Linked DNA regions of Homo sapiens: regions 1, 2 and 3 are each linked to region 4. The links come from fine-mapping of genetic effects on gene expression. A gene starts in region 4. Each other region holds a variant in brackets. All regions are shown on one strand. Distances are between the middles of the regions. Region 1 has its middle 96 kb from the start of RPAP3. Region 2 holds the start of LOC124902926 (a long non-coding RNA gene). Region 3 overlaps LOC124902925 (a long non-coding RNA gene). Region 4 holds the start of SLC48A1 (solute carrier family 48 member 1).

The links. PIP is the estimated chance that this variant, and not a neighbour inherited with it, causes the effect.
Region 1: its variant is the best candidate, but not a certain one, in a credible set for the expression of SLC48A1 in whole blood (INTERVAL, PIP 0.64).
Region 2: its variant is the best candidate, but not a certain one, in a credible set for the expression of SLC48A1 in whole blood (INTERVAL, PIP 0.77).
Region 3: its variant is the best candidate, but not a certain one, in a credible set for the expression of SLC48A1 in visceral fat (GTEx, PIP 0.59).

The regions. Positions count from the first base shown.
Region 1 is chr12:47,608,850-47,611,535 of GRCh38, reverse strand. No RefSeq gene overlaps it. Among named protein-coding and RNA genes, the nearest start is that of RPAP3, 96 kb to the left of the region's middle. The variant G/TGTGTGTGG (reference allele first, on the strand shown) is at 1,029.
Region 2 is chr12:47,799,947-47,802,632 of GRCh38, reverse strand. HDAC7 (histone deacetylase 7) reads left to right here. Exons shown (of 26, transcript NM_015401.5): 2 at 359-409. LOC124902926 (a long non-coding RNA gene) reads right to left here and starts at 1,553. Exons shown (of 2, transcript XR_007063290.1): 1 at 1-1,553. The variant A/G (reference allele first, on the strand shown) is at 1,364.
Region 3 is chr12:46,954,921-46,957,606 of GRCh38, reverse strand. LOC124902925 (a long non-coding RNA gene) reads left to right here. Exons shown (of 2, transcript XR_007063287.1): 2 at 565-944. Among named protein-coding and RNA genes, the nearest start is that of PCED1B, 120 kb to the left of the region's middle. The variant C/T (reference allele first, on the strand shown) is at 1,642.
Region 4 is chr12:47,772,079-47,774,762 of GRCh38, reverse strand. It overlaps SLC48A1 (solute carrier family 48 member 1), which reads right to left and starts at 1,525. Exons shown (of 3, transcript NM_017842.3): 1 at 1,323-1,525. The coding sequence starts at 1,458. RefSeq lists enhancers at 293-797, 798-1,304 and a silencer at 1,050-1,659.

The sequences.
Region 1 (2,686 bases), 160 kb after region 4:
ATTAGGCATCATTTATTTCATTCTTAACAGGAAAAGGTGCTATTAAAACAAAAACGAAACAAACATTCCAGGGAAGGATGGAATTAATCACAGGCATAGATTGCTCCTTCAAAAGTAATTCTCATCAGTGAGCTCTTTGTGTAGTGGTTGACAGCTGAACAGTCTGGTAATAAGATGTACAGGGCAGAGGTTCTCAGGAGGACCTCTTCACCCAAAGTGTTTTAGTAGAGAAGAAGGGGTCCAAATGCTGCTCGTGGTAAAACATCATCTCAGAAATTCCCTATTGTGAAAATGGCAAAGGGATTTTGTGGGAGAAAGCTTGTTAGGGAGAAAACCAAGGTTTGGCTTTGTCTGTTTTTTTCTTTTTTTATTCCTGGAGTCATGCCAATTGCCAGACATACTAAGTGCACATAGTTATGTGCCAGACCCTGCATTAGGCCCTGGTAATATAGAGAAGTGACTCACAGTCCCTGCCTCAAGAGCACTGAGTACAGAAAAGGAGACTGACACATGGACTATGACAGTACTTTGCACTGTGGTAATGATATGCTGTATAATGTAGGGTAGGCTAACTTCTGTAACAAACAGCTCCTAAAGCCCCATGATTTAGCATAGTAGATGTTTGTTTCCGTCCTCTATTACAGAGTAGAGCAGGTGCTTGGCAGACAGTCCTCACATAGCTCCAACAATCTCCATAGTCTCAGAGTTCTCTTCTGGATCCTCTGCAACCAGTCAGCAAATGAAAGAAAGAGGAAACTGGAGTGTGGCACAGGAAGATTTTGGGGGATAGGTTTGGAAGAGGTGGCCATAAGCCATTCATTAGAGCTTAGTCCTCTTGGCCTCATGTAATGCCATGGCTAGGTAGCCACTTTCTGGCAACAGCTTTGCACTGTGGAAGGGGAGCATCAGTCTTTGATCAAGAGCCAACTGTTTCTGAGACTTATGCATGGGGTAGGGGTGTAATGGGAGCTCAGAAGAGAGGTAAACCCATTGGCATGTGTGTGTGTGTGTGTGTGTGTGTGTGTGTG[G/TGTGTGTGG]TGGGTAGGGAAGGGAAAGTATAGCAAAAGCTTTCCAGAAGAATTGATACTGAAACTGAGTTTTGGAAGAAAAATGGGGTTTAAATCATAAAAGGCAGTGGGAAAGGACATTTTAAATGGAAGGAACAGTGTGTGCATAGGCACTGAGGTATTCATTAATTCATTCATCCATTTAAAAAATCGTTACAGATGTGCCTTTCAGGTATCAGGAGTCATTCCAGATGTTGGCAATACCACTATACATAAACCAGACAAGTCTCCCACTCTCATTACCCAATATTCTAACAATGGGAGACAGACCATAAGGAATCAGCAAATAAATACACAACTTAAAAAATCAAATTGCATATTATGTGTTGGGGAACTGCATGTCTTTAAGTAGGGCTGGGGCAAAGGTTGCATGTTGGAGGTGGGGGTGGAACAAGTGAAAAATGATGAGACTGGAGAACGTAGAAAAGGCCAGCCATGAGAAGGCCTTTCATGCATTAAGCGGCATCAGGAAGAGGATATGGACCTAGATTTGCATTACAGAAAGGTCACTGGCTTATGACTGCAGAGAGACTTGTGGAGTGGCTGCAGGGAGGCCAATTATTAGACAATTGGAATAATTTAGATATGCAATGATGAGGTCTTAGTGAGGAGAGGGTGGAAATGAGAGTTACAAAGGAGATGCTGTGCGCAGGACTAGGGAGTTGTATCACAGGAATGAAGGTAAGGGAAGGCTCTGAGGATGACCCCTCCTTCCTCCTTCCAGGTTTCAGGCAGAAAATAAGCAGCATGTGTTTCCTTGAGTTCAGTGCAGCCATTCTGATTTGTGTACACTTTTACATTAAAATAAGTATTGTTTACAAGATGTCACAAAAAGGCTAATAAACTAAAATTTTACTCTGTCTTACTAGAAAGCAGTGGGAATAAATTATGTTATTTTAATGTAATATGTGGTTTATGCATTTTGGTTATTTGGCTTGTTTCCATTTGCTGTTCCAGATAGCACCTCTTATGAATAGCATCACTGTGAGTGGGGCATCCATAGAGCCTGTTGGGGTGGGCACCCACCAAACAGCATCATTGGATGAAGAATGTCTGCCCAACATGACAAGTTGGGAGAAAAACTCATTTGAATATATAGGTTATGGACTGAATGTTTGTGTCCCCCCAAATTTATATGTTGAAACCCTATACTCAGTTATGATGGTATTAGTAGGTGGGGCCTTTGGGAGGTAATTAGGATTAGATGAGCTCATGAGTCAGGGAGCCTTCATAAATGGAGTTAGTGCCCTTATAAGAAGTAACAGGAGAGGCCAGGCACTGTGGCTCATGCCTGTAATCCTATCACTTTGGGAGGCCGAGGCGGGTGGATCACCTGAGGTCAGGAGTTCGAGACCAGCCTGCCCAACATGGAGAAACCCCGTCTCTACTAAAAAAAACAAAAAATTAGCTGGGCGTGGTGGTGGGCACCTGTAATCCCAGCTACTCTGGAGGCTAAGGCAGGAGAATCGCTTGAACCTGGGAGGCCGAGGTTGCAGTGAGCCAAGATTGCACCATTGCACTTCAGCCTGGGTGACAAGAGTGAAACTCTGTCTCAAAAAAAAAAAAAAAAAAAAAAAAGAAGAAGTAACAGGAGAGTTTGCTTCCCCTTTCTGCTTTCTGCTGACAGA
Region 2 (2,686 bases), 28 kb before region 4:
GATGGGAGCCTGGTTTGGCTGCCCAGGGAAGATTGTATCTGACCACAGGAGGGAGGGCTGAGGGCACTGCTGGGTGAGCTGAGGCCTCCTTAGGTTCTTGCTGTAGTCTGAGTTCAAGTCATTTAGAATGAGTGACTTGAGGAAGAGGGAGCTGGGAGCCCTTTTCACCAGCAGGGGGACTGGAGGAGTCGAATGGGGTGGGGTCTTCTCGTTTTGATTAGCTTCTGGTGGAGGTCCCAGGCTTTGGCGTGCTCAAGCTTGGAGTGGCAGGGAGCAGGCCTGGCTTGACCTTCTTTCCTTCCTGCTCCCTCTCCTCACCCCTCCCTGCAGCTCTTTCACTCCGTCTCTCTCTCTACAGATGGGACCCAGGTGAGCCCGGGTGCCCACTACTGCAGCCCCACTGGCGCAGGTAAGAGTCAAACCCGGGGGAGTCCATGGTAGGGAGTGGAAGATGAGGGGTGGAAAGGCTGTAAGAACGCGAGAAGCTGAGGGGTTAGAGAAGCAGGGTCGCTGGCTGATCTGCCAGAGAGCCAGGAGGTGGCGGCTCCAGGGAGGGGCGAGGAGCCGGGGTAAGAGAGGCAGCTCTGGATGCTGGCTGGGCACAGTGCTAGGAAACACAACAGGAAAAGGAAACACAGGATGCCCGTCTTGTCCTTGCTGGGAGCAGTGAAACAGGAAGGAAAGTAAGAAGCTAATATTTATACTGAGACCCCTACCCCATGTCAGGCACCAGGCAAGGTGTGTTCTTGTGTGTGGACTCGGTCCTCACACCGGCTCTGCAAGGTGGGCATGGCAGCCCTTGCAGGACTGCTCTGCTGGAGGGGAAGTGTTCTCTCACTGTCTGCGCCTCCTCCCTCTGCTGGCCCGAGCCTCCTCTGCTGCTAGGCTGCCCTGGGGAAGGACTGGACTTCCTGCTGCTGCTTTGGTTTAGGACATGCCCATGGGGCCAGGTCTGGACTAGACGCGGTCTGCCCTTCCTTTAGTGTAGCCAGTATCAACCAAGGGCCTACTGAGTGCAAGATATACAGCCTGATGCCTAATAATTCCATATAGCAGGGAGAAATGGAACCCAGGTATCCTCCTTGCTTCAGTCCTGGCTGTTGAAAAGCTAACAGGCAGGTTAGGGAGGAAGCACACACAAATACAAAGCGAAAAAAAATAGAATGCAATAATGTGACCAGTGCCCAATGAGAGGACACTGATTCATGAGTTTATCCATTTGTTCAAGAATCATTAATGAGTTCTGTCTCTGTGCCAGGGTACTTTCCTGGACATTTTAGGAGAGACACTGATTTATTCATTGATTCTATGTTTGTGGAGTGCCTGTCATGTGCTAGGTACTATTCCAGGTGCTAGGAATAAT[A/G]AACAAAGCATGAAACCAACTCCCTGCCCTATGGAGCTTAACTCAGACATGGTACCTGCCCACAGAGCACTAATCCTGGTGTGGAACAGCCATGTGATTGGAGTCCAAAAGAGGGAGGGATGCTAGGCGCTGGCTGGGTCCAGGGATGAGGGAGGACTCCAGCTGAGCTTTGAGCAAAGAGTAGGATTTGGAAAAGTAGAATGTAGGGATGAGGACAGCACAGGCAGGGGGACATTGTGAGCAAAAGGTCAGAGAACAGAAGAGATGTGGATTTGTGACAGGTGGAAGCTGATGGCCAAGGTGGAGGGTTCATGTTCAAATGCAGACCAAGTTGAGAGAAGCCAAGTTAGGACCAGATTGTGGAGCCTCACAAATGCTAAAGCACCTCGAAAAGTATTTCCAGGGCTCCAGGCAGAGCCCATCCTGTATTCCCTTCTGCTGTGGAGGCAGTGGCCATGCAGAGTGTGAGGGGAAGGGCCCCTGCTGGGGGTCTGCTCACAGTCCGTATGTGGCTGAAGCCACTGGTCTTGGGTCCAGGTCGCTGGCCTTGGTTCCCCCAAGCCCCTCTTGCATAATCAGGGGAGTCACCCCGGGAAGCCAGGACACAGAACATGGAAGGACTGAAACCTTTCCTGGGGCAGGAGTGTTTTGGTATTCGAAACCCAGACTCAACCCGAATGAGAATCCGGATTTCTTGGGAGGCAATGTGAACAAGGGGTGGGGCATCAAAGCCATACATTTTCTACTGCGGGCGGCATCTGGGTGCACAGCCATCACTGTCCCTCCAGGCCTCTTGATATTCGGGGGACATGGCGGGCACCTCCTTGCTGGGCTCCTGTCTTGTGTCCATGTCACAGTCAGGGAATGTTAGAGTGAATGCCCTTTAATGACAGCCTACTGCAAACCCCTCTTTGCTTAGTGAGAAAGCCCCTTGAGGGGAGGTGAATTCCTGAAAGTTGGTGGGAAACTGGAGTACCTGCCTTGGTAGGACCAGAACCCATGCTAGCTCTGCCCCTAGCAGGGTGACTTTGGACAGGGCCCTTCACCTCCGAGCCTCGGTTTCCTTATTTAGGATAACAAGATAGTAATGACTACCCCCCGGGGCCAGTGGCTTGATGTAGCTGCTCATGCACAAGTGCTGTAGATGTAAAGATTGTGGTTAGGAGTGGCCAGCTTGGGCCTGGAGGCTATGATTTCTGACTCCTGGACTGGTACTTTGCCACAGGCCTTTCCAGCCCTCCTCAGCCCCAATCCCTGAGGACAGTCTGTGGCTGCCCCACTGGGAGATGCCCAGCGTTGGAATTGCTGAAGGAGGCCTCTCCA
Region 3 (2,686 bases), 820 kb after region 4:
CTGTCCTCATAATCTAATCACCTCCCCAAAGCCCCATCTCTCAATACTATCCCATTGGAGGTTTGGTTCCAACATATAAATTTTGGGAGACACCAGCATGATGTGGATGATAGCAGCTCTGAAACTCATCGTAACCCAACATTCTTTGGACTTAAAGATGAGACCTTTAGCTAACAAAACTTACCATGAGGTAGAAACACAGAATTCCAGTGTATTAGATTTTAAAGGGAAATGTGACTGTCAAGGAGATCTCACATTTAGGTCAGTCTGATCAGTGCAAAGTACCTGAGACATTTACTTTGGGGAATCAGGAGAGTTGGTTATGTGAAAAGAATGTGCAACAAACATCAACTCTGGCAGTGTGATGTATCCATCACTATAATAAGAATATGCTGGCCAGGGAGCCTGGGTAAATCCACTTCTTGTTGCATGACTTGGACACACACAATTCAAGTTTGCTTGCAATCTTAATGTGACTTTAAATATCTCTCTTTACTCCAAATTATGCTGGACTTACGTCATAGCTTAACTCTCAAAGAGCATTCTCACTTTCCTTATTTCTAGGTTTTAAGGACCATCCCTGTCTCACCTCCATGGACTGTCTACAATATGCATGGTCAAAAAGTAGACCCGTTCTGCAACCGGACAGCAGAGAAATGTGTCTGTGATACCCACACAGTCAAGAGGCACACTTAAAATAGCATCAGACCCTAAAAAAAGATAGGAAATGACCACAGACCAGTGGGCCAGACAGCACATGTATCCTCTGTCCAGGACCCATGGCCACTGTTGGCAGGCCTACCACTGAGGCAAATCCTACTAGGAGGTGGAAGTCATGAAAAGAGTTTTTCCACATTCCTTTCTGTGATCTACAGTAAAAACCTCAGGGAGATATTGAATCATCTGCTGTTTTTTACAACCCCAATTAAACAAAATTTTCTGCACCTCCTTCTCCTTCCGCATTCTTCCCCCCACCCAGTTTCCTTCTTCCCCCTTTTCGTCAATGGAGTGGTGTGGAGGAGGGTAACTGAAGCTAGGTTGGGGATTTGTTCCCAGACCACAGGAATTAGAAACAATTTAAACAAATGTTTAAATTATCAGGATCCTCTTTGTTTCTAGCTTAACTAAGAATTGCAAACGGTATCTATGAAATTTCTCTTTTTCACTTCCCATGTGCTGTTTCCAATGCAGTTTCATGAAGACACATACACAAAATCTTCTAAAATCCTTGTCTTTTCACATCACACCAAACAGTAATACTGTTGATTACACAGGTAAAACTTGCCTCAAAAGATGTTTTGTAGTCGATATACATTAAACCAAAGCAGAGTATTTTGGGGACCCTTAACACCTAATTTTTTTTTTTTTGTTAATCAACACTTTCATGTTTTCTTGAAGCTAATATCAGTTTAGGTGCTTATCACTGTGCAAGGCAATATGATTCTAATCAAGCCAGCAAACGTAACTAAGAAGGCCTGCTGCCTGTTGCTAGAGGGCTCGGAGGGCCTTCAGATGCCAGTGAGACCCCAGCCTCAGCTGGTGTCCTGGTTCAAAAGAATTCGGGGATGAGTCCGAATGATGCGAAAGGCAAGAAGCTTTGATTCCAAAAATGAAAGTACACAGTTGAGAGAGAAGTGCAGG[C/T]GTGCTGACGAGAACAAATCACACACAATTAAGTTTAGGTTTTTAATTTTATGGGTGTTTCTTTAATTAGGGGGTGGAATAATCATTCTGGAAAAGGAGAGGATTTCGGGGACCCTTGTTACCATCCCCTTTTTCTCTTTTTCGGGTTTGCCAGAAAGAGTCATAGATATGTCAACCTGACCAGGATTTTGGCCATTTGTTGTCCCTTCTTTTGGGTTTTCCATCAGCCCATGGTTTATTTGCCTAGTTATTGTTTTAGCTGTGGTTGGGGGTTTTCTATCCTCCTGTGCCTGCCCAGTGCTATTCCTATTTCAGACCCATCAAGTGCATTATGAAAGCAATATTTGCATACATTTGGAAATACTAAGGTCTCATCTCCAAATTATTGAAATCCATAATTTCAGATCAATCAAACTAAATAGTCATACCCTAGGAAGTTCTGTCTCATAAGAATAAAGCAAATGTGGCACATATACACCATGGAATACTATGCAGCCATAACAAAGGATAAGTTCATATCCTTTGCAGGGACTTGGATGCAGCTGGAAACCATCACTCTCAGCAAACTAATACAGGAACAGAAAACCAGACACCACATGTTCTCACTCATAAGTAGGAGTTGGACAATGAGAACACATGGACACAGGGAGGGCAACATCACACACCGGGACCTGTCAGGGGGTGGGGGGCTAGGGAAGGGATAGCATTAGGAGAAATGCCTAATATAGATGACGGGTTGATGGGCGCAGCAAACCACCATGGCATATGAATACCTGTGTAACAAACCTGCACATTCTGCACATGTATCACAGAACTTAAAGTATATATATAGCATCATTGAGTATTTTCATATTGCAATGTATGCTATTTGTTTGTTTGTTTTAATTTCAAAATAGAAATCTAAGCAATGTCTTTCAGAGATCAGCTACTAAGGAAAATGCAACATCATCTTATGCCTGCTCCTTTGTATTTATTTTAAAACAAGTTAATCTATGAAAACATCTATTTTGAAGAGAACTTTAGAGAACTTAGGCTATTTTTTAAA
Region 4 (2,684 bases):
GAGAACACCCTAGCCAGGGTGCCCATCCCCCCTTCTTGGTGACCCAGTGCTTTGTTGGCATTGTGTAGGGTGGGGCCCTGTATGCCCCTCTTCTAAGGCATTAACCCCACCTCATGCTGCGACTCTACCCAGGGATGGCACTCAGCACTCCCTGTGGCAGTGAGTAAATTAGTTATTTTTAGTTATTCCATTTAGGGTTCTTTTGGCCGAGGATTTTAGTAATGGAATATAATCATCATATGTAAAAGTATTATACGTATTTTCTTCCCAAAGTCCTTTCCCACACATATTATTTCATGTAGCTGTGTAATCCCGGGTAAGCAATTTATTTAACTTCAGGCCTCAGTTTCCTTATCTGTAAAATGGACATAATCGTAAGGCCTACTTCATGAGACTAATGTAAGGATTAAATGAAATAAGGGAAGCAGGTTGCTTAACATAGTGCCTGACACATAGAAAGCATTTTTTAAAATGTTAGAAAGTAGAGATAATATTTTTCATCTTCATACCAATTCTATGGCGCAGAGAGGTTAAACTGCGAGCCCAAATGTGCACAACAAGGAGCACTGGTCAGCCCAGAGCCCCCATCAGCGCACCGATGCTTCCCCTTCCCTCCCAGAAGCACAGAAAGGGCGGCTGGCCTGCAGGATTTGGCAGAGCTTGGCTGAGGAGCCACAGCAGACGGGTAGCAAAAAGGCACCAACATGGGTGGAAAGAGAATGTCCAGTTTCTATGAGATCCCTAACGCCGTCCTCCCTGTGGGTCTCAGCAGAGGGCTCTGCGGGGGAGCCCTCTGGAAGGAGGGAGATGGGCTTCCCCAGCCACCCCTAGCCCTCTTCCTTTCCCACTTCTTCCCTCTCTGCCCTCACCCAGCACCCAGGGAAGGGGCGCCTGGGGGGCAGGGGATCCCTCAGAACAACCGTGTGTGTGTGCGTGTGTGTGTGTGTGTGTGTTTGGGGATAGGAGGCGACCAGCGCCGCGGGCGCGCGGAGGGGACACTGTCGTGGGGCAACTGGGCGGAGGGCGACAGGCAGTGTGCCGTGACAGATAACCCGGGCGGCGCGGCAGGTCTGTGCAGCCGGCAGTGGCGGGCCGTCGGCACCCCCAGGTGGCGCCCGGGCGGGCATCGGGTCTCAGAGGCACCCAGGAATGCCCAGGAGCCCGGGCCCGCGTGGGGCCTGCCGCCGCCAACCGCTGTTTTCGAGTAAACACTCCACCCGCTCCGCGGGGAAGCGCCGCTCGCGGGGAGCGTCCTGGAGCAGCTGACGGCGCCCGCCCCGCAGCCGCGCACCCGCCCCGCGCCGCCCAGCGTCCCGGGGTACCTGCGAGCCCTCCCATGGCCGCGGTCCCCGGCTGTCGGTAGACCACCGTCCAGACGAGGAAGATGGAGAAGCCGGCCACGGAGCTGATGCCGGAGTAGGCGGCGCGGAGGCCGAGCTGCAGCCTGGACGGGGCCATGGGGCTGCGGCGCCGGGCGGGCCGAGGGCGAGCGCGGCCGAGAGTCACAGGTGCAGGGCCCGAAGCCGCCAGCCGGAGCCGCGGGAGCCGCCAGAGCAGCCGGCGCCCCGCGCTCCGCCCCCGGCCCGCCCCCAGCGCCGCCCGCACAGCGCCCTCCCCGGCCGGAGGCCGCCCGCGCCCGGAACCGCAGACGCCACCGCCGCTTTGCGAAGCTGCCGTGTCGTTTGGGGGAATGCTGCTAAAAAGGCGGATTCCTGGGCCCATCCCCAGACCCGCCGTGTCCGGATTGTTGGACCTTGGAAGGGACCGGAAATATGCCTTTATACGAGCGAACCGCGAGGATTAAAAATCTTTACCTCTGAGTACGATGCGTATTTTCGTTTAAAATTAAAATTAAAATTTCTTGTTAAAAATTAATAGGTAAAACTTAAGAAATATTAGAGTACGCTGTGAATAGAATTCCTTCCGCCCGTCCTTCTATCAACCAGGTTCCCTCCCACCATATCGCAGAGGATTTCTCCACACACTAAAGTCTGGGAACCCCTGCGACCATCACCTTCTGACTGCAAACATTCTATACATTCTATCCTCACGCACAGCTCCCCACAAATCCCTACTTTTTTTTTTTTAAACAGAGTCTCACTCTGTTGCCCGGGCAGGAGTACAGTGGCGCCATCATAGCTCCGCATCCTCCAACACCTGGATTCAAGCAATGCTCTCACCTCAGCCTTCCAAGCAGCCAGGACTACAGGTGTGTGCCACCACGCCTGGCTAGTATTTTTTGTTATTTATTTTTTGTAGAGATAGGGTCTCGCTATATTGCCCAGGCTGGTCCCCAACTCCTGGCCTCAAGCTGTCTTCCCACCTCGGCCTCCCAAAGCGCTGGAATTACAGGCTTGAGCCACTGCAACGGACCTCACCTTTCCTTTTATCAGCACAAGCCTTATCCTCCCAAACCCCTCACCCTGACCCTCGGGATCATACCATTGTAAGGAAGAGACAGATCTGTAGCAGGAGGGCACTGAGCTCCCACGTGAGCCCAGCTTCCGGCCGGGAGCTGGAGGGAAAATCCCAGCACAATAACAAGGGCTCTGCCACAGCACTAAGGATCCACATGGGGAGGCCCATCATATACCTGCACAAAACATAACCAATACCCCTTGCATTAGTTTTTTTTGTGTGTGTGCTGCCGTAACAAATTACCACAAATTTACTGATTTAAAATA